Linked DNA regions of Homo sapiens: region 2 is linked to region 1. Evidence: fine-mapped expression QTL. A gene starts in region 1. The other region holds a variant in brackets. All regions are shown on one strand. Distances are between the middles of the regions. Region 1 holds the start of SAXO5 (stabilizer of axonemal microtubules 5). Region 2 overlaps ARHGEF18 (Rho/Rac guanine nucleotide exchange factor 18).

Evidence for each region. PIP is the estimated chance that this variant, and not a neighbour inherited with it, causes the effect.
Region 2: its variant is fine-mapped to the expression of SAXO5 in spleen (GTEx, PIP 0.95).

Annotation. Positions count from the first base shown.
Region 1 is chr19:7,489,645-7,501,762 of GRCh38, reverse strand. SAXO5 (stabilizer of axonemal microtubules 5) reads right to left here and starts at 4,215. Exons shown (of 9, transcript NM_198534.3): 1 at 4,081-4,215; 2 at 364-957. The coding sequence starts at 940. It also overlaps a transcript of PEX11G not described here. RefSeq lists a silencer at 8,726-9,020.
Region 2 is chr19:7,469,570-7,484,265 of GRCh38, reverse strand. It overlaps ARHGEF18 (Rho/Rac guanine nucleotide exchange factor 18), which reads right to left. Exons shown (of 29, transcript NM_001367823.1): 28 at 14,237-14,362; 29 at 11,788-14,140. The coding sequence ends at 13,968. PEX11G (peroxisomal biogenesis factor 11 gamma) reads left to right here. Exons shown (of 5, transcript NM_080662.4): 3 at 2,055-2,233; 4 at 5,890-5,952; 5 at 6,830-7,391. The coding sequence ends at 7,064. Among named protein-coding and RNA genes, the nearest start is that of PEX11G, 12 kb to the left of the region's middle. RefSeq lists enhancers at 40-561, 6,785-7,420 and a silencer at 11,062-11,111. The variant C/T (reference allele first, on the strand shown) is at 9,596.

The DNA of each region.
Region 1 (12,118 bases):
CACAACCTCTGCCCCCTGGGTTCAAGCGATTCTCCTGCCTCAGCCTCTCAAGTAGCTGGGATTACAGGCACCCTTCACCGCGCCCTACTAATTTTTGTATTTTAGTAGAGGCGGGGTTCCTCCATATTGGCCAGGCTGGTCTCGAACTCTTGACCTCAAGCGATCCCCCCGCCTCCAACTCCCAAAGTGCTGAGGTTACAGGCTTGAGCCACCGCGCCCGGCCACCCCCCAAGTCCTGACCACCAAAAGCGTTTCCAGACATTGCCAAATGTTCCCTGGGGGAAGGGGAATGAAGAGCCCTTGCCCCTGTTTGAGAACCACAATGTGAAGCAAATCGCCCACTCAGCCCGGGCGCGCGCTCACCGAGGTGGCAACTGGGCGCGCGAGGCTGCGGGCGCGCGTCGTGGGGTGGAAAGAGCGCCTGGTGCGTGGTGGGCGGGATGCGCAACTTGTCGCGGTCGCCAGGAGGCAGGGAGTCGCGGTCGAAGATGAGGCGCGCGCCGCGGATCCGCTCTCGGGTGCGCGCCGGCAGCTCGGGCCAGCCGTAGGCGGCGTGCGCGTTGGAGAGGCCGATCCCGGCGTGCGCGTCCTCGTGCAGGTGCAGGTTGCCGGCCTGCATGGCGAGCGTGCGTTCCCGCGCCTGCGCTTGCAGCAGCTCCCACGGCGGCGTGGATGGCGGCGGGAACGCGCGGTGCGCCTCCGACACGCGCTCTTCCCGGTCCCAGCGCGGGTCCATTGGGAAAAGCAGCGCGGGCGGCGGCTGCAGGCTCGGCGGCTCCCGGGTGGCAGCCGGGTAGGCAAAGTCCCGGTGCGACGTGGTGCGCATGGTGCCCTCGTGCAGCCGCAGGTCAGGCCCCAGCGAGAAGTGCGAGGCCTTGAGGAAGTCCAGCCGGGACATCGGGCACGGGCGCGAGCACGGCAGGAGGGCGCCTGTGGCCATCGCGGGACACCAGCCACCTGCGAGAGGGTGGAGATGAGGGACTGAGCAAGTGCCCATTGGGGCACTTGCCTTTGACTCCTGCTTTTGACTCCTTTCTGCTGCCTTTGACTCCTTTCTGTTCGCCAAGCACTGAGCTGGAGGCTGGGGACATCACGGGAAACTGGTACAGCTTCTGTGCCTTCCCCCAGCGAGAGCAGAGACAGAAATAATCATGGCTGGGCGCGGGGGCTCACGCCTGTAATCTCAGCACTTTGGGAGGCCGAGGCCGGTGGATCACCTGAGGTCAGGAGTTCGAGACCAGCCTGGCCAACGTGGTGAAACCCTGTCTGTACTAAAAATAATTTTTAAAAAAAATTAGCCTGGAGTGGTGGTGGGCGCCCGTAGTCCCAGCTACTCGGGAGGCTGAGGCAGGAGAATCGCTTGAACCCGGGAGGCAGAGGTTGCAGTGAGCCGAGATTGTGCCATTGCACTCCAGCCTGGACGACAGAGCGAGACTCCGTCTCAAAACATAAAAAAAAATCTTTCATGTGGTGCCTACTGTAGGCCTGGCACACAGTAGGCACCACATAAATGATTTCTGTCCCTACTCTAGGCCTGGAGGCCAGCAGGGGTGGGGAACTAACATTAGTTCACAAAATAGACCTAGATCCCTGCCTTTGTGGAATTGATAATGGGGCGGGAGATGACAGACAATAATAAAAAATATAACAACAAAAATTGAAGAGTAGGTTAGAAGGTAATAGCTGGGTACTGTGACTCACACCTGTATCCAGGCACAGTGAGAGGTCAGAGCAAGAGGACTGCTTGAGCCCGGGAGTTCAGGACCAGCCTGGGCAATATAGTGGGACCCCGTCTCCACACACACACACACACACACACACACACACACAAATTAGACAAGTGTGGTGGGCTCAACCTCTTGGGCTCAAACGGTCCTCTCACCTCAGTCTTCTGAGCATCTGGGACTATAGGTGTGCACCACCATGCATGGCTAATTCTTTCTATTTTTTTTTTTAGAGACAGGGGTCTGGCTATGTTGCTCAGGCTGGTCTCAAACTCCTGGGCTCAAGCAACCCTTCTGCCTCAGCCTCCCAAAGTGCTGGGATTACAGGTGTTAGCCACCATGCCTGGCCAAGGGTAGGTTTTAACCACTGCTTCACAAAAGACATTGAGGCTCAGGGAGGTGGTCATTTGCTTGAGATTTGAACCCAGGGCGACTCTGATTCTAGAACTTGGAGAATTAACCACTGCATTCTACTGTATGTCTGATACAAGAACCGCGTCTTCTCACCCTCAGTCAGTTGTCAAGGCCACGGTTTTCTCCTTCTTCCCCTCTGGGGGACCCATTTTTGTTCCTCTGCCTAACTCCAGCCCTGCACCCCAGCCACTGGCCATCTCCGTTTCTGCCACACTTTTTCTCCCTTCTCTCCCCCTCCCCCGCCCCTCCCCCCTCCCCTCCGCTCCTTTCACTTCCCTACCTTCTCTCTCTTTCTTTCTTTCCTTTTCTTTTTGTGACAGAGTCTCACTCTGTCCCCCAGGCTGGAGTACAGTGGCACGATCTCAGCTCACTGCAACCTCCACCTCCTGGATTCAACTGACTCTCCTGCCTCAGCCTCCCAAGTAGCTGGGATAACAGGTACCTGCCACCATGCCCGTCTAAGTTTTGTATTTTTGGTAGAGACGGGGTTTCACCACATTGGTCAGGCTGGTCTCGAACTCCTGACCTCAAGTGATCTGTCTGCCTTGGCCTCCCAAAGTGCTGGGATGACAGGTGTGAGCCACTGTGCCCGGCCTGCCACGCACTTTCTTACTGGTTTTCCCCTGCTCTGCAGTTGTCCTAGGTCCTGCCTATTCTCAATCTCTTCCTGTCTTCACACCTTCTGAGAGTTAGCTCTCTCCTCTGACCTTCAGCTTCAGACTCCAAGCCTCCCCTGACCCTCCGCCTCTGCTCAGTCACCTGGGACTTTCTTGCCTTTGCTTAGATCACAAGTGTCTCCCATGCTCTCCTCTCTGTCTCCCTTGGAGACCAGCATTCCAAGTTCTCAGGCTCACCTCTTGCAGGAAGACCTCCCAGATCACTTCAACCCACAAAACCTGCTTACCTCTACCTATTTAGAAAACATGGATCAGACGGGTGCAGTGGCTCAGGCCTATAATCCCAGCACTTTGGGAGGCCGAGGTGGGCAGATCTCCTGAGGTCGGAGTTCAAGACCAGCCTGACCAACATGGAGAAACCCCATCTCTACTAAAAATACAAAATTAGTCAGGCGTGGTGGCGCATGCCTGTAATCCCAGCTACTCCAGAGGCTGAGGCAGGAGAATAGCTTGAACCCAGGAGGCAGAAGTCGTGGTGAGCCAAGATTGCGCCATTGCACTCCAGCCTGGGCAACAAGAGCGAAACTCTGTCTCAAAAAAAAAAAAAAAAAAAAGAAAAAAATACAAAAATTAGCTGGGCATGGTAGTATGCACCTGTCATCCCAGCTACTCAGAAGGCTGAGGCGGGAGAACCGCTTGAACCTGGGTGGCAGAGGTTGCAGTGATCCGAGACCACGCTACCGCACTCCAGCCTGGGTGACAGAGCGAAACCCCATCACAAAAATAGAAAGAAAACATGGATGAAGGGTGTGTGTGTGTGTGTGTGTGTGTGTGTGTATGTGTGTGTGTGTGTTTTAATGAAACCACAGTTTTTCAGTGTGTAAGTTTGTTGCTTTTTTTTTTTTCTCAGCTCACTGCAACCTCTTCCTCCTGGATTCAAGCGATTCTCCCACCTCAGCCTCCAGAGTAGCTGGGACTGTAGGTGTCCGCCACCACGCCCGGCCAATTTTTGTATTTTTAGTAGAGACGGGGTTTCGCCATGTTGGCCAGCCTGGTCTCGAACTCCTAGCCTCAGGTGATCCACCCTCCTCGGCCTCCCAAAATGCTGGGATTACAGGCATGAGCCACCGCGCCTGGCTGAGTTTGCTGCTTTTTGAATCATTTGCCCCCTGCAATAGTTGAGAGTTGAATATGACCTCCAAAATGGGTCATCAGAGAATCCAACAACTGAGACTACTAGCCAGGTAATCTTGGAATAAGTCATTAAGCTCCCATGAGCCTCAGTTTTCACCTCTGTACATCAGGGACGAGGACAGTGCACCTACCTCAAGGGATGGCGTGTGAATCAATGAGTTTTAGAAAATTCACTTAGCTACAGACCAGATCTTTGGGTCTCCCTCTGTCCCTGGTCTCTCAGAGGATCCTCATGTTCCTTCCCAGGCTGCATCCAAGGGTGGTCCAGCCCTGCGCATTGTGACCCCAAGAGCTTCCTTTGTGTAATGATACTGTCACAATGACCACTCAGCACCTCTAGGGGCAGCCGGGAGGAAAATTAGCAGGCAGGCTTGGTGCGAATACTGCCTCCTTAGAGCTCCAGGAACCCAGGCAAGTAATTGACTTTTTGGAGCCTCTGGGGTTTTGTTCGGTTGGTTTTGTTTTTGAGGTAAGCTCTCGCTATGTTGCCCAGGCTGGACTTGAAGTCCTGGGCTCAAGCGATCCTCTCGCCTCAGCCTCCCAAGTGGGTGGGTCCACAGGTGTGTGCCACCATGCCTGGCTAGGACTTAGGTTTTGTCATCTGCAAAAGGGGACTAATGATGGTAGCCAGTTCAGAAAGCAGTGTCAGTATTGAGGATTTGATTAAATAGGCTGCTGGTGTCCATTATTATTATCATCCTCTAAAGTTTTTCTGTCCCTCTACCTTCTACACACCCCACACAGAATGGACCCACTTCCCTGAATCACTGCACCTCTTGATATTATTCTAGGGCTCACAGATCTCCCTTTAAAGGGGCCGGTCACCCCTCCTTCCCCAGTCAAAGACCACCAGGAATGTACCTGTGATTGAACACATTCAAGCTTATTATTCATCAGAGAGAGAGAGAGAAAGAAAGAGAGAGGGAGAGAGAGCTCATACATGTCATAGGGCACTATGGCGGTCTCAGTAGGGAGGTGTTAGAAAGAACTTTTTTTCGCTATTTATTTATTTATTTATTTATTTGAGATGGAGTTTCGCTCTTGTTGCCCAGGCTGGGGTGCAGTGGCACGATCTCAGCTCATCGCAACCTCCGGCTTCAAGTGATTCTCCTGCCTCAGGCTCCCGAGTAGCTGGGATTATAGGCATGTGCCACCACACCCAGCTAATTTTGTATTTTTAGTAGAGATGGGGTTTTTCCATGTTGGTCAGGCTGGTTTCGAATTGCCGACCTCGGGTGATCCGCTCGCTTCAGTCTCCCGAAGTGCTGGGATTATAGGCGTGAGCCACCACGCCCGGCCAGAAAGCACTTATTATGGGATTTGCAATTCTGCTCGGTGTTTTGGGGGCACAGCTTAAGGAAGTAGGGGATTTGGGTGGGATGAATTTATTGGTTGGAAATTTTACTTTCTTTTTTGAGATGAGCAGATAAAAACAAATAAAAACAACACACAGGTGAGGCATGGTGGCTCACATTTGTAATCTCAGCCTCCCAAAGTAGCGTCCAGAAAAGGGCTGTTGTGGCTTGGTGTGGTGGCTCACGCCTGTAATCCCAGCACTTTGGGAGGCCAAGGTGGGTGGATCACTTGAGGTCAGGAGTTTGAGACCAGCCTGGCGAACACGGTGAAACCCTGTCTCTACTGAAAATACAAAAATTAGCCGGGCGTGGTGGCTCACGCCTGTAATCCCCGCTACTCAGGAGGCTGAGGCAGGCGGATCTCCTTTGGTCAGGAGTTCGAGGCCAGCCTGGCCAACATGGTGAAACCCTGTCTCTACTAAAAATATAAAAAATAGCCGGGTGTGGTGGCGGGCACCTGTATTCCCAGCTACTCAGGAGCCTGAGGCAGGAGAATTGCGTGAACCCAGGAGGCGGAGGTTGCAGTGAGCTGAGATCACGCCATTGCACTCCAGCCTGGGAGACAAGAGCAAAACTCTGTCTCAAAGAAAAAAAAAACTAGCTGGGCATGGTGGCGGGCACCTGTAATCCCAGCTACTCAGGAGGCTGAGGCAGGAGAATCGCTTGAACCCAGGTGGTGGAGGTTGCAGTGAACTGAGATCGTGCCACTGCACTCCAGCTTGGGCCACAGAGCAAAACTCTGTCTCAAAAAAAAAAAAAGAAGCAAGGGCGGCTGAGTGCAGTGCCTCAGGCCTGTAATCCCATCACTTTGAGAGGCTGAAGCGGGAGGACTGCTTGAGCCCAGGTGTTTGAGACCAGCCTGGGCAACACAGTGAGACCCTATCTCTATAAAAAATTAAAAAGCCAGGTGCGGTGGCGCGTGCCTATAGTCCCAGCTACTTGGGAGGCTAAGGTGGGAAGATTTCTTGAACCCAGGACATTGAGGTTGCAGTGAGGGTGCAGTGAGCTATGATTCCGCCACTGCACTCCAGCCTGGGTGACAGAGTGAGACTCTGTCTCAGAAACAACACAAAACAAAAGAGCAGCTAGGGAGAGAAGTAACTATTATTCAGCATCTTAATCATCTGTATGAAGAAGTCAGAAGGAAGGAAGGAGAGAGGGAGGGAAGGAAGGAAGGGAGGGAGCGAGGGAGGGAGGGAGGGAGGGATTTGGGATCTGCAGTTCTGTTAGGTGTTTTGGGGGCACGGTTTTGTTTTTTGTGCAAATCCTGCCTCCTTAGAGCTCCAGGGAAGCTGGGAGCTGGAAGGAAGGAAGGAAGGACGAAGGGAAGGAAGGAGGGAGGAAGGGAGGGAAAGGAAGGAAGAAGGAAAGAAGGAGGGAAGGAGGGAGGGAGAGAAGGAGGGAAGGAAGCAGGGAGGGAGGGAAAGGAAGGAAGAAGGAAGGAAGGAGGGAGGGAGGGGAAGGAGGGAAGGAAGGAAGGAAAGAAAGAAAGAAAGAAGTCAGAAGACTAAAGCTGTGCTTGGTAAGGAACAGCCGTTGCTGGTATTAGCTAGTAGCAGAGGAGGTCCAGTTACTCTGATAGTGTGGACAGTGTTCGTGTTTTGCCTGTGTTCAGACATGATTATGGAGCAGGCTTGTTTTGTCTTGCTCTGCCGCGGTCACAGAGTGGCCTTGTCTGATGTCGGCGTCATGTGAGATTGTTTATGTCCAGCAGGAGGACACCAGGGCCCTGCTTTGACTGCCAGGCCAGCTCCTAGCAACACCAAGGCCAGCTGTGAACACCAGGCCAGCTCCTGTGTCTTTTTCAAAGGTCGAGCTCAGACCTAGCCAGATGGGGGACGCTGGGAGGGCTGGGCTGTGTCTGCAAAGCTCACTGCTGTATCTCTGTTGCCTAGAGCGGGACCCGGCACACAGGAAGCATTCGGGCAAATGCATTGCGCTGTTCCAAGGCTCTTGGGCCTGAGAGGAGGGATCTGCTTATTCATGCAGCAGCAGGCTTTGCGGCCAGTGACCTCTTTCCTCTGCATGTCTGGACCTTGGCTTTGGATTTTTTTTTGTTTTACTTTTTTAGAGATGGGTCTTGCTGACGCCCAGGCTGGAGTGCAGTGGCGTGATCTCGGTTCACTGCAACCTCCACCTCCTGGATTCAATCGATTCTCGTGCCTCAGACTCCTGAGTAGCTGGGACCACAGGCACAGGCCACTGCAGCTGGCTTGGCTTCAATTTTTCTGCTGTGAAAACAGTGACCCCGTGGCTGGGCGCAGTGGCTCATGCCTGTAATCCCAGCACTTTAGGAGGCTGAGATGGGAGGATTCCCCAAGGTCAGGAGTTCGAGACCAGCCTGGCCAACAGGGCAAAACCCCATCTCTACTAAAAATACAAAAATTAGCTGGGCGTGGTGGTGGGTGCCTGTAATCCTAGCTACTTGGGAGGCTGAGGCAGGAGAATCACTTGAACCCAGAGGCAGAGGTTGCAGTGAGCTAAGATCATACCACTGTATTCCAGCCTGGGTGACAGAGCGAGACTCTGACTCTAAAAAAAAAAAAAAAGAGTGACCCCCCCACTGGGGGAGAGGGGAGTGCACAAAGACCCGTGGACCCAAGTCTTTTTTTTTTTTTTGAGACGGGGTTTCACCATATTGGCCAGGCTGGTCTCCAACTCCTGACCTCAAGTGATCCACCTGCCTTGGCCTCCCAAAGTATTGGGATTACAGGTGTGAGTCACTGAGCTCAGCCAGTGGACCCAAGTCTTAAAAGGAGCTGGATGTGGAAGTTAAAGAGTCTCTTGGGGCCAGGTGTGGTGGCACACACCTGTAATCCCAGTGCTATGGGAGGCTGAGGATGGAGGATCACTTGAACCCAGGAGTTCAATGCAGCAGTGGTGCTATGATCATGCCACTGCACTCCAGCCTGGGCAACAGAGCGAGACCCTGTCTCAAAAACAAACAAGAAGAAAAAAAAAAGAGGCTGGGCATGGTGGCCCATGCCTGTAATCCCAGCAGTTTGGGAGGCCGAAGTGGGTGGATCACTTGAGCCCAGGAGTTTGAGACCAGCCTGGCCAACATGGTGAGACCCTATTTCTATTAAAAACTCCAAAAATTAGTGGGGGCGTGGTAGCAGGTGCCTGTAATCCCAGCTGGTTGGGAGGCTGAGGCAGGAGAATTGCTTGAACCCGGGAGGTGGAGATGGCAGTGAGCCGAAATCATGCCACTGCACTCCAGCCTGGGCAACCGAGTGAGACTCTGTTTAAAAACAAAAACAGAAAGAGAGAGAGACAGAGAGGAAGAAAATCACAGGAGTGGACAAGGCCTTTCTTGTGCCCCCTTGTGTTCCATGCTCCCTTGGAGCACAAGAAGAGATCTTTGGACAGGGCAGTGAAACTTACAAAACAGATTCTCTGTTTTCTGCCAGGCTGTGCGGATATAGCCATGAACAAGACAGGTCACCAGCAGGTAACATGGGTAGGAAGTGTCCAGGAGGGTGTGATCGGGTGGGTCCCGTGAGAGGATGACATTCGAGTAAAGGAAGTTAGGGAAGGAGGGAGCCACGTTGGTATCTGGCTCAAGAACATTTCTGCAGAGGAAACAGAACATGCAAAGTTCCTGAGGCAGGAATCTGCTGTAACTTTAAACAACAGGAGGAAAGCAATGCAGGAGAAGAGTAACAAGAGTTGAAATCAAGAGGAAATATTCTGTGAAAGAAAACTGGTTAACATCGAGGCCAGACGCGGTGACTCACGCCTATAATCCCAGCACTTTGGGAGGCCGAGGTGGGCAGATTTCTTGAGATCAGGAGTTGGAGACCAGCCTGGCCAACATGGCGAAACCCCGTCTCTACTAAAAGTCTAAAATTAGCCGGGCACAGTGGCGGGTGTGCTGTAATCCCAGCTATTTGGGAGGCTGAGGCATGAGAATCGCTTGAACCTGGGAGGTGGAGGTTGCAGTGAGCTGAGATCAGCACTGCACTCCAGCCTAGGCAATAGAGTGACACTCTGTCTCAAAAAAAAAAATTCAAACAAACCAACAAACAGACTCGTTGACATCATTAGTCATCAGGAAAAGGCAAAACAAAACCACAATGGGGTGGCACGTCACACCTACTACGATGGCTATCATAATCAAAAAAGGATGTTGCAAGGAAGTGGCGAAATTGGAACCTTTGTGTAATGCTGGTGGGGATGGAAAATGGTACTGCTACTGTGGGAAACAGTTGGGCAATTACTCAAAAAGTTCAACATAGAGTTACAAAATGACCCAGCAACCCCACTTCTAGGTATAGACCCAAAGGAATGGAATCCAGGGACTCCAACTACATATTCACAAATGTTTATAGCTGTACTTATTCACGATCGCTAAAAGGCAGAAACAGCCCAAATGACCATCAGCTGATACGTGGATAAACAAAATGTGGTCCATCCATATGGCGCAATGTTATATAGCTGCAAGTGGAATGAATTTCTGATACATGCTGCAACTTAGACAAACCTCAACACCATTATGCTCAGCTGCACGCAGTGGCTCACACCTGTAATCCCAGCACTTTGGGAGGCCAAGGCAGGAGGATCCCTTGAGTCCAGGAGGTCGAAACCAGCCTGGTGAACATAGCGAGACCGCATCTCTACAAAAGAAAAATTTTAAAAATTGGCCAGATGTGGTGGCGTGCACCTGTAGTCCCAGGCAATGTGGAGGCTGAGGCAGGAGGATCTCTCAGGCCCAGGAGTTCAAGGCTGCAGTGAGCTATGATCACACCACCGCACTCCAGCCTGGTGACACAGCAAGACCCTGTCTCAAAAACAAAAAGCAAAAACCAAAACAACCTATTATGCTTGGTGGAAGAGGCCGACACAAATGGTCACATATTGTATGATTCCATTTGTATGAAATATCAAGGAGGTCGGGCATGGTGGCTCATGCCTGTAATCCCAGCACTTTGGGAGGTCGAGGCAGGCAGATCCCTTGAGGTCAAGAGTTCAAGACCAGCCTGGCCAACATGGTAAAATCCATCTCTACTACAAATACAAAAATTAGCCGGGTGTGGTGGTGCGCACCTGTACTCTCAGCCACTTGGGAGGCCGAGGCAGGAGAATTGCTTGAACTTGGGAGGCGGAGGCTGCCGTGAGCTGAGATCATGCCACTGCACTCCAGTCTGGGTGACAGAGTGAGACTCTGTCTCAAAAAAAAAAAAAAAAAAAAAAAATCAAGAAGTGGTAAAAATACAGAGAGACAGCAGAGAATGCAGATTAGTGGTTGCCAGGGGCTGGGAGGAGGGAGGAATTGAGTGATTGCTTTATGGGAACAGGGTGTAGGGGAGGAAACATACTTTTTCCTTTATTCTTAGTTCTTAGCTGTGATGGATCCTTGCAATGAAAGAATTAAGAAGGGCGGGTGCGGTGGTTCACGCCTGTAATTCCAGCACTTTGGAAGGTCGACGTGGGAAGATTGCTTAAGCCCAGGGCTCAAGGCCAGCCTGGGTAACATGGTAAGACTCCATTTCTACAAAAAATAAAAAATAAAAAGAAATTAGCCAATTGTGGTGGCAGGCACCTGTGGTCCCACCTACTCAGGATGCTGAGGTGGCAGGATGGCTTGATCCCAGGAGTTCAAGGCTGCAGTGAGTTAAGATCGTGCCGCTGCACTCTACCCCTTTTTTGTGGGTAGTTGGTCAAGCTACCATGGGGCAGAATGTAGCAAGCTCTGGGCATCATCCTGGGTCCTCAGGCCCAGAGAGCACACAAGTGGCGGCTTCACATCTACAAATTTGGTTCCTCCCAGAGCGAGGCCCTGTCTCAAAAAAAAAAAAAAAAAAAAAAAAAAAAAATAGAGGCCAGGCGCGGTGGCTCACGCCTGTAATCCTAGCACTTTGGGAGGCAGAGACGGGCGGATCACGAGGTCAGGAGATCAAGACCATCCTGGCTAACACGGTGAAACCCCGTCTCTACTAAAAATACAAAAAAAAAAAAAAAAAAAAAATTACCCAGGCGTGGTGGCGGGCGCCTGTAGTAGTGCCAGCTACTCGGGAGGCTGAGGCAGAAGAATGGCGTGAACCCGCGAGGCGGAGCTTGCAGTGAGCCGAGATCGTGCCACTGCACTCCAGCCTGGGCGACAGAGCGAGGCTCCGTCTAAAAAAAAAAAATTAACAAGGGAAAAACAAATTTATTAACATGTGTACCTTATGTGTACATGGGAGATGCCAAGAGAAATGAGGTGGCTTATATAGCTTATATAACTCCTGCTTATATAGCACCTTCAACATATAGCAGCAAATTTTTGGAGAAGTGACAAGACGAAGGAAAAGGACATTGAGGCCGGGTGCGGTGGCTCACGCTTGTAATCCCAGCACTTTGGGAGGCCGAGGCGGGCGGATCACTTGAGGCCAGGAATTTGAGAACAGCCTGGCCAACGTGGTGAAACCCCGACTCTACCAAAAATACAAAAATTAGCCGGGCACAGTGGTGCACAGCTGTGATCCCAGCTACTTGGGAAGCTGAGGCACGAGAATCGCTTGAACCAGGGAAGCGGAGGACGCAGTGAGCAGAGATGGCGCTACTGCACTCTAGCTTTGGGGACAGAGCAAGACTCCGTCTCAAAAAAAAAGAAAAAAAAAAAAAAGACGTCTCCAGACAAGAGTCTAAAGGTGTCCCTGGTGATCAACCTTTGTCCTTCCTGGTAGAGAGGGGAGGAGGGCACCTTTGTACCTTTAGGTCCTGCTTTGAGGCAAATCAGGGAAGAACAGAGAGCTTTTCCGGTATCAGCTTCATTGATCTCAGCTCAAAATAATCCTACACCAAGGTCGCATATTTCAGAGGGGCATATGCT
Region 2 (14,696 bases), 19 kb after region 1:
CCTCCTACCTCAGCCTCCGGAATAGCTGGGACTGCAGGTGCACCACCACACCTGGTTAATTTTTTGTATCTTTTGTAGAGACAGGGTTTTGCCATGTTACCCAGGCTGGCCTTGAACTCCTGGGCTCAAGTGATCCACCTGCCCCGCCTCCCAAAGTGCTAGGATGACAGGCGTGAGCCACCGCGCCTGGCCACAGATCATTTCTTATCGGTCTAGAAAGAGCTGCGTTCTCAGGACCACATAGTGCTCTGCTATGCAGCTTCGGATTTATTTAATTGGCCTCTGGTTGACGCACAGGGCAATGATTTCTAAGGTTTTGCTATTGCGACAGTGCTGCAGAGAGTAGCCTTGTCCCTGCGGCGTCCCACAGGCGTGCCAGCCTATCTAGAGAGCCATCTTGCCCCCCACGGGATGATCTCAGAGGCTGCGTGGGCCAGCCTCTCAGCGTCCTGCCCCTCCCTGGGCTGCCCTGTCTGTTCTCTCTGTCCTCCCAGGGATCACCTCTCTGAGCCACTTGCTACTCAGGTGCTCCCCGCCCCGAAATCCCAACCCCACCGTGTTCAGCACCACGTGTCCTTGGCCTGATCATCCTATATCATAAGTGTTGCTGTGGGCCGCCTTCCTGTTTTGACACCTATAGCATCCTCCTCCTCCGTGTCTGATTAGGACAGCGCTCTGGTGCATCCCTGAGACCCCTCGTTCCTCTATGCCCTCTGTGGAAGAGCCCTCAGGCAAGGGGTGGAGGCCCTTGCACCTCGAGTGTCCCTTGGCCAGAACAAGAGCCCTGTTTGTTGGGTTCCCGGTTTATATGTCTGCGTTCCTCCCTGCCCTGGTGAGCCTCTGCCCCTCCCCAGAGTCTAGCCTGGACCCTGCCGCTTCTCAGGAAATCCGGGCGGAATGAGCACATTGGGGCGGGGTCCGCCATCCTCAGGGAGGTGGGCAATGTGCCAGGACGCGCCAGGCAGATGAGGGAAGCTGGAGTGAGGTTCAGAGCCCGGAGGGAGGTAGGATCATGACTGGCCAGAAAGAAGGAGAGCAGCATCTGGAATCAGCGGTGGGGGCGGGGAGGAGCTTCCTGGGAAGTCAGAGAGGAGGGGAAGGGTGTGGCAGGTAACAAGGAGGATAAAGGTAGAGGGGGCGGGGCTCCGATGGGGCGGGGTCACGGTGGGCGGGGTCCCAAGGGGGGTGGGGTCCCAAGGGGGCGGGTCCCCCGGTTGGCTGCGGGGCTCCAGTCCCAGAAACCAGGCTTCAGCGCTGGTTTCTACAGCCTCAACTGGTCCTGCCTCGCTGGCTCTAGGCCGTGTGATTAAGAACTTGGGGCAGAGGGTATGGGCACTGTGCAGGACCGAGAGCCCGCGTGTGCATTGCAATTCGAGGGCCTGGAGGCCCATCCCTGCCGGAACTGGGGGCCAGCGGCTTTCCCTGAGAGCCTCAGCGTGGCCGTCTGTAACTTGCTCGGAGTTGAGGGAGGCCATGAGCCTTGCCGCACTGTGCCTGGCGCGTGGTCAGCAGTGGGCGTGCGGTGGCCCAAGGGTTGGCACACCATCTCAGCCTGGTCAGGGTTCGCTGCGGGCCACCTCATGCTCCCTGCATAGAGTCTGGCAACAGAGGTCCCCACCTGTGCAGGAACTGGAAGCCTTTGGGAAGGAAGGCTCTGACACAGGGCTCCCAACTTGGCCTGGGAATCCCCTGGGAATGTGAAAATTCCCTGTGAAAATTCCCGGTACTGGGGCCTGCCCCAGGCTGAGTGAGGCAGAATCCTCACGGCTGGCATTGGGCATGGGGTTTTTGAAGCTCTGCAGAGGACTGCACTGCACAGCTGCGTTGAGAGCCTCCCTCCAAGGGGCACTGAGCACCGTGCTGCCGAGACACAGAAATCAGGCCTGTGCGGGGACCCCAGCCCCAGAGCCTTTCTCCCGCGGGGCCTGCCAGGCCTGGACACGGCCCAGGGACTGGGGTCAGGAAATAGCTCTCTGCCACCTGGCATGGCTACGGTGCTAAAATGGGCAGTGGGTAAGTCTGACCCTAGGCCCCCTCTGCTCCTGGTCCTGCAGGAGGAGGACGCCTTTGTCCGCTGTGTCTCCGTCCTAGGGAACCTGGCTGACCAGCTCTACTACCCCTGTGAGCACGTGGCCTGGGCGGCTGATGCCCGGGTCCTCCACGTGGACTCTTCTCGGTGGTGGACGCTGAGTACAACCCTGTGGGCCCTCTCTCTGCTCCTGGGGGTTGCCAGGTAAGTGGCATGGGCCAGAAGGGAGCACCCAAGGTCCCTGGGCGGTGCCTCCTTAGCAAAGTGGCAGCGGCCCCAGCAACAGCACAGGCTTCAGACTGCGGTGGGTCTTTGCCTCTTAGAGTTTTCCTTGGAGGTTTTGTTGTTTCTTCCTTTTGTGGGTGTATTTGTTTAGAATAACTGTCGGAACAAATTAGCACAACTCTGTAGTGCTGGGCAACAGAAACTTCTTATCTTAGGATTCTGAAGGCTGGAAGTCAGAACACTCCCTGGGCTAGTGTCAGCAGGCGCTGATGCCTTCTGGAGGTCCCAGGGGGAGGTCCGTTTCCTTGGATTTTCCAGCTTCTGGAGGCCACCCACATTCCTTGGCTCATGGCCCCTTCCTTCATCTTCCAAGCATGACCTCTGCTTTCAGCGTCACACCTCCTTCCCTGACCCTCATCCTCCTTCCTCCCTCCTATAAGGACCCCTATGATGACATGGGGACCACCTGGATGATCCAGGGTAATACCCCATCTCAAGATCCTTAGCTTAGGTTGGGCGTGGTGGCTCATGCCTGTAATCCCAGCACTTTGGGAGGCCAAGGCGGGTGGATCACTTGAGCCCAGGAGTTCTAGACCAGCCTGGCCAACATGGTGAAACCCTGTCTCTACTAAAAATACAAAAAATTAGCTGGGCTTGGTGGTGCACACTTGTAATCCCAGCTACTTGGGAGGCTGAGGCAGGAGGATTGCTTGAATTTGGGGAGGTGGAGGTTGCAGTGAGCCGAGATCACACCCCTGCACTCCAGCCTGGCGACAGAGCAAGATTCCGTGTCAAAAAAAGAAAAAATCCTTAGCTTAATCCCATCGGCAAAATATCCTTTGCCTTGGAGGTGAACATGTTGACAGGTTCAGGACATGGACATTTTAGAAGGGGTCATGACTCTGCTGACCACACTTAGAAAGAAGAAGTAACTCCAGGGCCTGTGAGAAGCAGCCAGCGGAGTGGCCTTTACCCGGGTCCCTGAGTCTTGCTGGCGTTGCTGTCAGCCGACACCCCAGAGAAAACAGTCAGCAGTTTCCTGACTAGTTCTGTGCCTCCAAAAAACCATATAGTTTCTAGAACTTTCTAGTAATGGTTTCCTCCCAAACATTTTCCTCTTTGCAAATGCGCTGAGTCAGAATCCCCTGCCCCTGAAAACACCAGCAGGAGCTGGGCCCCCTGGTCTCCATGTTTCAGTGGCTGTGAAGGGCTCTTAGATCGCTGGGGTGAGGTGCGGCTGCCCCCAGCCTCAGGCAGGCTGTGTCCTTTTTCTGGGGGAAGCTTTGCTTGTCCCTGGTCGAGGCTCTGACTCTCAGTAGTTCTTGTTTTCCCCCCGGCACAGATGTCCTAATTACATGCTTACCGTAGACAATCTGGAAAATAGATAAACCTCAGAGTAGAAGATTCGAATTACCCACAATCCAACCCAGACTCCCACTGTTCAAGCTTGGGTGGTTCTTTTCCAGCCTTTGACCTAATACCCTGCCTGTGCATTTTGGCTGTCTCAAAAGGGTCATGTTTCATGGCCATGGCCCCTGGAGGCAGCGGTGTCTGTGCTGCTGGCCTTCCCTGTGTGCTGGGAGACCTGGGGGAGGGTGCCTGGGCCCAGCCTGGATGTTCCTGGGGCTCCGGTCAGAGGGGGGCCTTGGCTCACAGCCTCTCTTCCGCCACCTTCCTCTGGGTGCCTCGTGACCTCTGGTTTGTATTTTAGGGGCAGCCTTGGTTCCTTTCTTTTTTGCTTAAATAAACTTTTTTTTTTTTTTTGAGACAGGCTGAAAAGCAGTGGCTCAATCTTGACCCACTGCAACCTCCGCCCCTTGGGCTCAAACAATACTCCCACCTCAGCCTTCTGAGTGGCTGGGACCACAGGCTGTGCCACCATATCTGGCTAATTTTTGTAATTTTTTTTCTGTAGAGACACGGTTTTGCCATGTTGCCCAGACTGGTCTCCAACTCCTGGGCTCAGGTGATCCACTTGCCTTGGCCTCCCTAAGTGCTGGAATTATAGGCGTGAGCCACCACTCCCGGCCCAGACTTTATTTTTTTAGAGCAGTTTTAGGCTCATGGCAAAATTGAGCATAACGTTCAGAGAGCTCCCATATACCCCCACACACAGCCTCCCCGACTACTGGCAGCATCCACATGGTGCATTTGTTACAACTGATGCCCCTCCATGGATCCATCATCACCCCAAGTGAGTAGCTCACGTTAGGGTTCACGCTAGGTTTTGGGCATCCTATGGGTTTGGACACTGACACGTGTCCCCCCTTGCAGAATCAAATGGAATTGTTTCACGGCCATCGAAGTCCTGTGTGCCCCGCCTGCTGCGGCATTCTTGTTTCGGGCATGTGGTTTTTCATCATTTCTCTGGATTTGCAGTGAGCAGGGGGAGTGGGTGGAGAGCATTCCATGTGTGCTCATCATGACCAGACATCTGCCCTAAGGCCCAGGGCTGCCGGAGCATCAGCCAGGAGGTTGCTAAATGGAGATGCCTGGGTCCGGCGCCCAGGGCTTCTGATTCTTTTCTTGAGACACAGTCTTCCTCTGTCGCCCAGGCTGGAGTGCAGTGGTGCGATCTTGGCTTACTGCAACCTCCACCTCCCGGGGTCAAGTGATTCTCCTGCCTCAGCCTCCCGAGTACCTGGGATTACAGGCGCCCACCACCACCCCCAGCTAATTTTTGTATTTTTAGTAGAGACAGGGGTTCACCATGTTGGCCAGGCTAGTCTTGAACTCCTGACCTCAGGTGATCCACCGGCCTTGGCCTCCCAAAGTCCCGGGATTACAGGTGTGAGCCATCGCGCTTGGCCCAGAGCTTCTGATTCTGTGGGTCTGGGGAGCCCAGGAATCAGTGTTTTTCCCTAGCCCCCCAGGAGGCTCCCACCTGCTGTGCCACTGGCGCTATCCTGCATCCTGCACCCTGGGTACCCAGTGGCCAGAGGAGTTGTGACCAGGCCCTGCCCATTCTGTCACAGTCACAACCCGGCACACCCCACGGCCGAGGCTGGAGAGTGCAGGTGCCTGGTGGACTGGCCCGGGTGGGTGCCATGCACGGCTGCAGAGCCTGCTGGGAGCACAGAGGCTGCCCACTGGGTAGCCCCTTCCTCAGCCTGCAGATGCCAGCCCTGGGGGCCCAGGGGATCATCCAGACAGGTCCAGCCAATGTCCGGGGTGTGTGTGCAGGGGGTGCTGGCATGGCACTGATTTGGACCTTTCCACACAGAGCAGACAAGGCAGCTGAGGCCCGGAGGGGAAACGGCGTCCCCACGCCTGTCCAACTGCGGGCCTCTTGGCATCCTTTTCTGTGTAGGACTCCCTGCCAGGCTGTGAACACCTCACGGGGCTTGATGTTCCTTTGAGCACTTGCCAGTGGTTTGCAGAGGCTGGGCCAGGCCCTGGATGGCCACGTCAGAAGTGCAGGACGATGTCCCGGGTGGGACGGGGCCGTGTTAGAGATGAGTCCCCGGGAGCATGAGGCACAGCCAGGAGGGTGTGGGACTGTGGGGGCAGGGAGAGGGCAGGCCGTTTATCCGAGATGCAGCACCTGTCCCAGACTGTATGTCCGGGGCCAGCGTTGTGGAGCTAACCCTCCTGCTCCCCGCCGGGGCATCCTCCCTCGGGCTCTGGTGCTGCAGGTCCCTGTGGATGCTGCTGAAACTGAGACAGAGGCTGCGGAGCCCCACGGCGCCCTTCACCAGGTAGGAGCCCGTGATCACCCAGCAGGGAGGCCCACTCCCTCCAGCAGGCGTGGGATCCCGGCTCGCAGCCACCCCTGTGCAGGCCCATGCTGGGGACTGTTGTGCTCAGGTCATGGGGGAGTCATCACAGCCTCTGGTGGGTGGCGGTACCTTTTACAGATGGAGAAACTGAGGCTTGCTTGAGCGGGGACTCCAGGGCTGAGCCTTCATGGCTGCGCCCCCAGCAGGAGAGAATGATCAATTTCCCGAAGGCCATGGCCATTGTTACTGTTGCTTTTTCTTTTTGTTTTTTGAGACAGGGTCTTGCTCTGTTGCCCAGGCTGGAGCACAGTGGTGCCATCTTGGCTCACTGCAGCCTCTGCCTCCTGGGCTCAACTGATCCTCCTGTTTCAGCTTCCCGAGTAGCTGGGACTACAGGCACGGGCCAGCACGCCTGGCTAATTTTGTTTTTTATTTTTTGGTGGAGATGGGGTCTCGCCATATTGGCCAGGCTTATCGTCACTGTGTCATCCTGATAAAGAAAGGCCGGGCAGGCACAGGCCACGCTCCTGGGGGTTCCCCCTTCCCTCCACACCTCCCAAAGTGCATTTGTGCTTTCTGTTTTTCACAAGGAATCCCCATCTCTGGGTGTTCAGGACGAGGAGTGAGGTGTGGATTTGAGGACTTGGACCCGGGTTCCTGCCCTGTTCGTGCTTGGGTCGGGGGGGTGATGGGGACTCAGTCTCTGTGGATGGTCAGGGAGGCCACCTCAGTCCTGCCAGCTCCTCCCACTCACAGGCAGGGGCTCAGGGCTGCCAGGCCACACAGGGCATTCAGGGGCTTGGGAAGGGCAGGCAGGTGTGAGCGTGAGTGTAAGCGGCCCCTCTCTGCCCCACAGCCCGCTGCCCCGGGGCAAGCGGAGGGCCATGGAGGCGCAGATGCAGTCGGAGGCGCTGTCACTTCTCAGCAACCTGGCCGACCTGGCCAACGCCGTGCACTGGCTGCCCCGGGGCGTGCTGTGGGCCGGCCGCTTCCCGCCGTGGCTAGTGGGCCTCATGGGCACCATCTCCTCAATCCTCAGCATGTACCAGGCGGCCCGGGCCGGCGGCCAGGCCGAGGCCACTACCCCCTGACACTGCCGGAAGAGCACAGGGACACAGCCAGAGCCCACGGAGGGCCCTTCCCGCAAAGCAGAAGCCGCCAGGGCAGGGGCCGGGGCTCTCATGGAGCTGCCTGTGGTGAAACCCATGGGCAGGGTGGGTGGAGGGACTGATGCGAGGTCCCCCAGGCCTCAGCCTGGAGCTCCTGAGCCGTGACAGTTTTCAGGGGCCGTGCAGGGCTTCAGCAGCACCTCCTGCCTGCCAGCTGGCGTCTTGTATCCAAATCAAGATGAGGAAGAGGGGGCCTGTCGTGCCTTGAGAAAGCTGGAACGGGAATCAATTAAACATTGTGGTGCTGGCGCCTGGCTCAGGGGTGAAGGTTATTACACTGCTGGCTCCTGGCCCCTTACCCTCCACAGGACGGACCCAAAGTTGGAAACCACACTACCCCAGCCCACCTTCAGGAATGCCCTCAGCCCGGTGGGTCCTCTCCATCTTTGAGCAAGCGTTGCCCACGGACCCCAAGTGGCCTCCAGCCATTGAGGGCTGTTCTCTACTCCCCAGAGTCCTGGGCACACAGGCCAGAGGCGCCACCTCTCATCAGGCCACCCGAGGGCGTGGCCTCATGCCACTGTGCTGCCGACGCAGGGCCACTGTGAGCATTTTAAGGGCTCCAGGCTGAGACTGGGCAACACACACTGGCATCGCTGAAGATACTTGGGGCTCCCACCTCAGCCAATGTGTGGTGGGATGGGATGAGGGCACTGCTTAGTCTGCTGGCTGAGAACAACCCTTCAGAGTCTGTGCACATGTGGCCTCTGGCAGACATTGTTGCACAGCCTGGCCCAGGAACACACAACAGCCAGTGTGTGTGCGCCCTTGGGCCTCATGTGATATCAATTGCACTGCCTTGATTTTTATCTTTTTGACCCAGGATCTCTGTCACCCAGGCTGGAGTGCAGTGGTGCGATCATAGCCTCACTGCAGCCTCAAACTCCTGGGCTCAAGGGATCCTCCTACCTCAGCCTCCTGAATAGCAGGAACTACAGGTGTTTATCACCAAATCCAGCTAATTTTTAAACTTTTTGTAGAGACAGGGTCTCACCACATTGCCCAGGCTGGTCTTGAACTCCTGGCTTCAAGTGAGCTGCCTGCCTCGGCCTCCCAGAGTACATTTGTGGTTTGTTTTTTACAAGGAAGATACCAGGTGGCTCTGAGCAGCTGGGAGGCCGGGGACTGCTCAGGGTCACACGGGTGCGGGAGACCCCATCTGTGGGGGCTCCTTCTGCCCAGGACTCACGAGTGGGCCAGGCTTGGTGGGTTTCCCCCTTCTTTCCCTTGTCGGGGGTGCAGGCCTGTCCTGGCCCTCAGCAGAGGCCTCCTTCCCAGCCCCTAGCAGCACCTGCATGATTAGGGCATCTCATTGTCTACCTGGAGACCCAACTACTTACTAGCTCATACCAGTGGGGCCCTTGGAGCAGCGCCTCTGTGTGGGGAAGCCACATGACCACCTGGTCACAGGTGCCAGGAGGAAAAGCAAGCCACCTTCAGGGATACAGCCTGGGCTGGGAAGGCCTTGGACACTGACCATGTGGAGCCCAGGCACAGAGCAGACAGGTTGGATGCTTCCAGAAAGGGAGGCCGCTCTCCCACTCTCTCAGCTGGTCCAGTGGTTGTGTGTGTGTGTGGTTGTGTGTGTGTGTGTGTGTTTAAACAGTTTTATGGAAATATAATTCACATATAAAATTTATCCACAGAAGGGGGACAGTTCAGTGGCTTTTAGTACATTCACAGTCGTGCAAGCAGAGCCACAGTCAACCTTAGAACATTCCATCACCCCAGAGAGAAACCTCACACCCCTCAGCTGTTACCCACCCGCAGCCCCCAGGCTTGGTGACCACTACTCTGTCCCTGGGTTGCCCATTCTGGTCCAGTGGTTTTCAACCTTTTAGGGGCTGGGAACAGACCCCTTTGTGAACCTTAAAGACTACGGGCCCTCTTTTTTGAGACAGAGTCACTCTGTCGCCTAGGCTGGAGTGCGGTGGCGCGATCTCGGCTCACTGCAACCTCCGCCTCCTGGGTTCAAGCAATTCTCTGCCTCAGCCTCCCGAGTAGCTGGGACTACAGGCACGCCCAAGCATGCCTGGCTAATTTTGTATTTTTAGTAGAAACGGGGTTTCACCACGTTGCCCAGGCTGGTCTTGAACTCCTGTGCTCAAGTGATTCACCCACTTCGGCCTCCCAAAGTGCTGGGATTATAGGCGTGGGCCACCGTGCCCAGCCACTACAGGCCCTCTTTGCAGAACATCTCATTTTAGGGTGCCTCCAAGCCCCCCAGGGCCCATAAGGAGTGCTGAGGAAGGCTGGGGGCATCCCAGTGGAGGGGTCAGCTAGGCAGAGGTCAGAGGACGGCTGGGGTTGGGGTGGAGCAAATCAGAGGGTGGGGGGAGACACACACACACACACACACACACACACACTCCAATGCCCACCATCAGGAGAATAGCAACTGGCCAGTTTTATGTTGTGTGCATTTGACCACAATGAAGAAAAAATAGACCAGG[C/T]GCGGTGGCTCACGCCTGTAATCCCAGCACTTTGGGAGGCCGAGACAGGCAGATCACCTGAGATTAGGAGTTCAAGACCAGCCTGGTCAACATGGTGAAACCCCATCTCTACAAAAATGCAAAAATTAGCCGGGCATGATGGTGGGTGCCTGTAATCCCAGCTACTCGGGAGGCTGAGGCAGGATAATTACTTGAACCTGGGAGGCGGCGGTTGCAGTGAGTCAAGATAGCGTGCCACTGCACTCCAGCCTGGGTGACAGAGCAAGACTCCATGTCAAAAAAATAAATAAAAATGTAATAAATTAATTACATCCTTTTTTTCTTTTTTTTTTGAGACGAAGTCTCACTGTTGTCCCCCAGGCTGGAGTGCAATCGTGCAGTCTCGGCTCACTGCAACCTCCGCCTCCGGGTTCAACCGCTTCTCTTGCCTCAGCCCCCAGAGTAGCTGGAATTACAGGTGTTTGCCACCACGCCCGGCTGATTTTTGTGTTTTTAGTAGAGATGGGGTTTCAACATGTTGGCCAGGCTGGTCTCAAACTCCGGACCTCAGGTGATCTGCCTGCCTCGGCCTCCCAAAGTGCTGGGATTACAGGCGTGAGCCACTGCGTCCAGCCCTTTTTTCTTTTTTTTTTAAATTTCATTTCTTTTTTCTATCCCCCAAATTTCCTTTTTTTTTTTTAAGCTCTTATAGACAGGGTCTCACCATGTTGCCTAGGCTGGAGTGCAGTGGCACGATCATAGCTCACTGCAACTTTGAACCCCTAGGCTCAAGCAATCCTCCTGCCTTGGCCTCCTGTGTAGCTGGGATTACAGGTGCACGCCACCATACCTGGCTAATTTTTTTTTTTTTTTTTTTTTTTTTGAGACGGAGTCTCGCTCTATTGCCTAGGCTGAGTGCAGTGGCGCAATCTCGGCTCACCGCAAGCTCCGCCTCCTGGGTTCACGCCATTCTCCTGCTTCAGCCTCCCGAGTAGCTGGGACTACAGGCGCCCGCCACCACGCCCGGCTAATTTCTGTATTTTTAGTTGAGACGGGGTTTCACCTTGTTAGCCAGGATGGTCTCGATCTCCTGACCTCGTAATCTGCCCACCTTGGCTTCCCAAAGTGCTGGGATTACACGCGTGAGCCACTGCGCCCGGCCAACCTGGCTAATTTTTTAATTTTTCTGTGAAGGGGTTTCACTATGTTGCCCAGGCTGGTCTTGAACTCCTGGGCTCAAGCTATCCTCCTGCCTCAGCCCCCGCCTCCCCAAAATGCTGGGATTACAGGGATGAGCCACTGTGCCCGGCCCTCCTTTTACTTTTTTAATATGGCTACTAAAAATGAAAAATTCCACACGTGGCCTGCATCATCTTCCTGGTGGACAGTGCTGCCTGAGAGTTCCCTTTTTGCGCTTCCTAGTGAGCTAGTGATCGACTTTACACCTAGTCCCCTTGTGATGGGAAACCCTCTGTTGAAACAGCAGGGTCCTCGCCTCACTGGACCGGGACTCAGACCAGGTGGAAATGATGATTTCATACTCATGGCCAAGCTGCCTCTCACCCCAGATGGAGGAAGTGAAAGTTCCAGCCTTTGCGGTTATTGTGGATTAAAAGCAAAAAGATTTTCGTGGAGGCGCCACCAAAGCCTGAAGTGTACCCGGTGGGCAGGACCCTCCACAGGCACCTCCACGCCCCACTCCTGCCCTGTGCCCGTAATCCCAGCACTTTGGGAGGCTGAGGCGGGCAGATCACTTGAGGTCAGGAGTTCGAGACCAGCCTCGCCAACATGGCGAAACCCCATGTCTACTAAAAAAATACAAAAATTAGCTGGGCGTGGTGGTGCACACCTGTAATCCCAGCTACTCAGGAGGCTGAGGCAGGAGAAGTGCTTGAACCCGGGAGGCAGAGGTTGCAGTGAGCTGAGAACCTGCCACTGGTCTCCAGCCTGGGCGACAGAGCAAGACTCTGTCTCAAAAAAACAAACAAACCAAAAAAACAGAAACAAAAACAAAAACAAAACCCCCAACAACTCCTGGGGACTGGACCTGAAGGGGTCTTCAGAGCGTTAAGCAGGACACGGAGGGCAGGTGAGCGAGCTGAGGGGCAGGAGCCATGGGGAGCCCCCAACAGAACCTGCTACTCCTGCAGCAACGTTTGGGCAGAAGAAAATCCTCAAATAAAACCTCCAAGAACGTGCACGCCAGTCACCGCTCATCTCGGACACGTTTATTGCTAGAATCAGGTCTTAAGTTCTAAAGCGGGTCAGAAATATCCCGCAGTGAGGAAATGTTGTAATCATTGTAAAAATAATTAGCAGGTGACTAAGATCATGACCACAACTGACAAAGACGTGTGCAGATCCCACGAAAATAGGAACATTTGCTCGACTGTCAACTTTACAAATAAAATCGGGCTCCAACCCAGGAGTGGCCGAGGGGCACTGGCGAGGGAAGGGCTGTCGGCGCTGCCGCCCGATGCCTAGCACGACTGAGACCCCTCTGCCACATGGCGGGGACGCGGGGTTCCCACCGCGTGGCCGAGCAGAAATTCCTTGAACTTCTCCCCCATCCAAGGAATTGTGGCATCTCGGAGGGCTGGACCGGCACACGCCGGCTCAGGAGGGTGCCAGGGTCTGGGAATGTTCTCTTCACAACAGAACAGGAATGTACAGTCAGCTTCTGTAAAGTGCTCCGATACTCAGTACAAAAATACAAAACACTGATGATAAACATGGCACACATGGGATCTGACGGGGGGCGGACAGCGTCGCTGATGGCCAGGGACCGGGCTGGGCAGAGTTGAGGTCGTCGGAGGGGCCAGGAGCCTGGGGACACCTGGCCACTGTGTTCTCAGGACCTTGTCACCAATGGGCTGTATGGCTGTGGGGCTCTGGTTCCCGGTTGGCACCAGCTCCTGCCCCGCCCCCTCCTGAGCCCACAGCACCCAGTGGGCGCCTCTGCCCAGGGGAGCACTTCCTGATGGAGTTTCCCCTCCCTTGTGCCCATCTGTCCCCGAGTGGCGGGAATGTCCCTGTTCACTGTATTCAGCGTCACAGGAGTGCCTCTGCCAGCACAGTGGGAGAAGGGCTGAATCCCCCCGGGATCTGCAGTTCCCAGGACCCTGGGTTCGGGAGAAGGACTTGGCCCTGGCAGGGGCTCACATGTACCCCACTGGGAACAAGGACGATCAGCCAGGACCCAGTCCTACCACCAATGCTTGGGGTGCAGAACAAGGCTTGACATGGGCCCTTTCTCCACCGGAGCTGGATCGTGGATGGATCTCACCACCCTGGGATGTCCCAGCACCTTTGATGCTGCCCAACACCTCCTTCCTCCACCCCTCCAGGGAACGGACCGTAAGCTGCAACAGCTCACTACAAGCGAGGGGCCCGCACAGCGGCCACTTGTCCACTTGCTGCAACGTCTCTAGGTGCATCCTCTGCATGCCCTGGGACATGGCGCTCTCGACAGTCTGTGATGTGCCAGCCCCCACCTGGAAGGTGGGACGCCAGCCCTGGGAGCTCATTTCCCGGGGGCTGAGGACCCTGTGCCCAGGGTGTGTACCCGCCCTGGCTGAAGCTAGAGGCCCGCTCCCCCAGACAGGCTGAGCGTGTGAACAGCAACGGTTGCCCTTGGGAAGCAGAGTTTGGGAAACAGCTGGTTTCAAAACCAATGCCAAGTAAAAAGGGGCAAAGGTCAGCCCCTTTCACGATGGGCTTCCAAACCCACAGAACCTGACTGGAGGGCCACTGATGTTCCCTCAGTGGGCCCTGCCCCGTGGCCCTCTCTGCCCATGCCCCCGTGCCTGGCTCATTCCCTGACCCTGAGGTTCATGGTGAACCTGCGTGGGGCTCTGTTTGGGAAGTGGATTCTGCCTGATTCTGGGGACAGATGCTGCCGACGCCACCTGGCCCCTCCTGGTGCCCTAACCCTTGGCTCCACTGTCGCGCGGCGGCTGTGGAGCGTGGCCCCGGCCGGCAGCTCCTTCTCAAAGCAAGGTCTGTCCTGTCCTCAGCTCCGTGCAGAGCCGGCACCGTTCCTCACTGCCTCGGAAAAACAGCTCGGAGTTGATCTCCCCGCCACCCGGATGGGGTGCTATGATTTCAGACAGCTCCCTGGTTTAGTTCTGGCTCAACTTTCCATTAAAAACTTTCCTTTTTGAAAAAAAAAAAAAGAGATTCAGAAAGTGACCCCGGCACCACCGCTAACCCTACAGAAACAGCTGCAAGGCCCAGAGCACCGACAGGCTGGCCCCTGCCAGGCGGTCATCAGTGGTTTGCTAGGGAAGAGGAGGGGACAGCTGGGTGGGCATGGTGACCCCATGGGGGTCCCCAGAGAGCAGGAAGGGTGGGCAGGGCAGGGAGGGGCCTTGCACCTTGAGTCACGGCCCTTTTAGAAGAAGATGACGTCTTCTTTGCTGGCGTCCTCCTTGGCGCTGAGTGGTGTGGCCGGCAGTGGCGAGGGAGCTGGGGGCCCGGGCAGGAGGGCTGTGCCCCCGGCCTTGAGAGAGAAGCCCTCGGAGGGGCTGTCAGCTGGCGGTGGGCTCGGGGCGGGGAAGCCAGGGTCTGGAACAGAGAGAGGGTTCAGACTGAGCAGTCGCCGGGTGGTGCCGCAGCCCCGCTGCCCTGGGACTGGGCTCATGTCAGGGGGTGGGGGCTCACCTGGTGGGGGCGCAGGACTGTGTCTGCCGGGCAGGATAGGGCTCAGCGAGCGGCGGTTCCGTGAGGTGCTCTCATCTTTCCCCATGAGCTTGTTGAGCAGCAGCTGCTGCTTCAGGTCGAAGGACGCTGGAAGAGAGAAGGTATTTGGGCCAGCTCCAGGCTGGCCAGCTGTCCCCACCCGCCAGGGCAGCCTCCGAGAGCAGAGGGGCCTGGCCACCCCCACCTGACACTTCCCACGGGCGGCCTGGATCCCGTGACCTGAGCTGCTCAGATGCTAAGCCCCAGATTCAGGGAGAACGGCCCCAACCTCCCTGCGGAAGGACCTGCAGAGTCACCCGGCATCTGGAGAGGAGGCTGAGCCTCCTGTGGAAATAGCACAGGCCCTAGTGACCACGGGACACACCCTTAATCTTCAGAGAACATCCCAGAACATCCCTGGTTGTCCCCCAGGGAGGTGTCC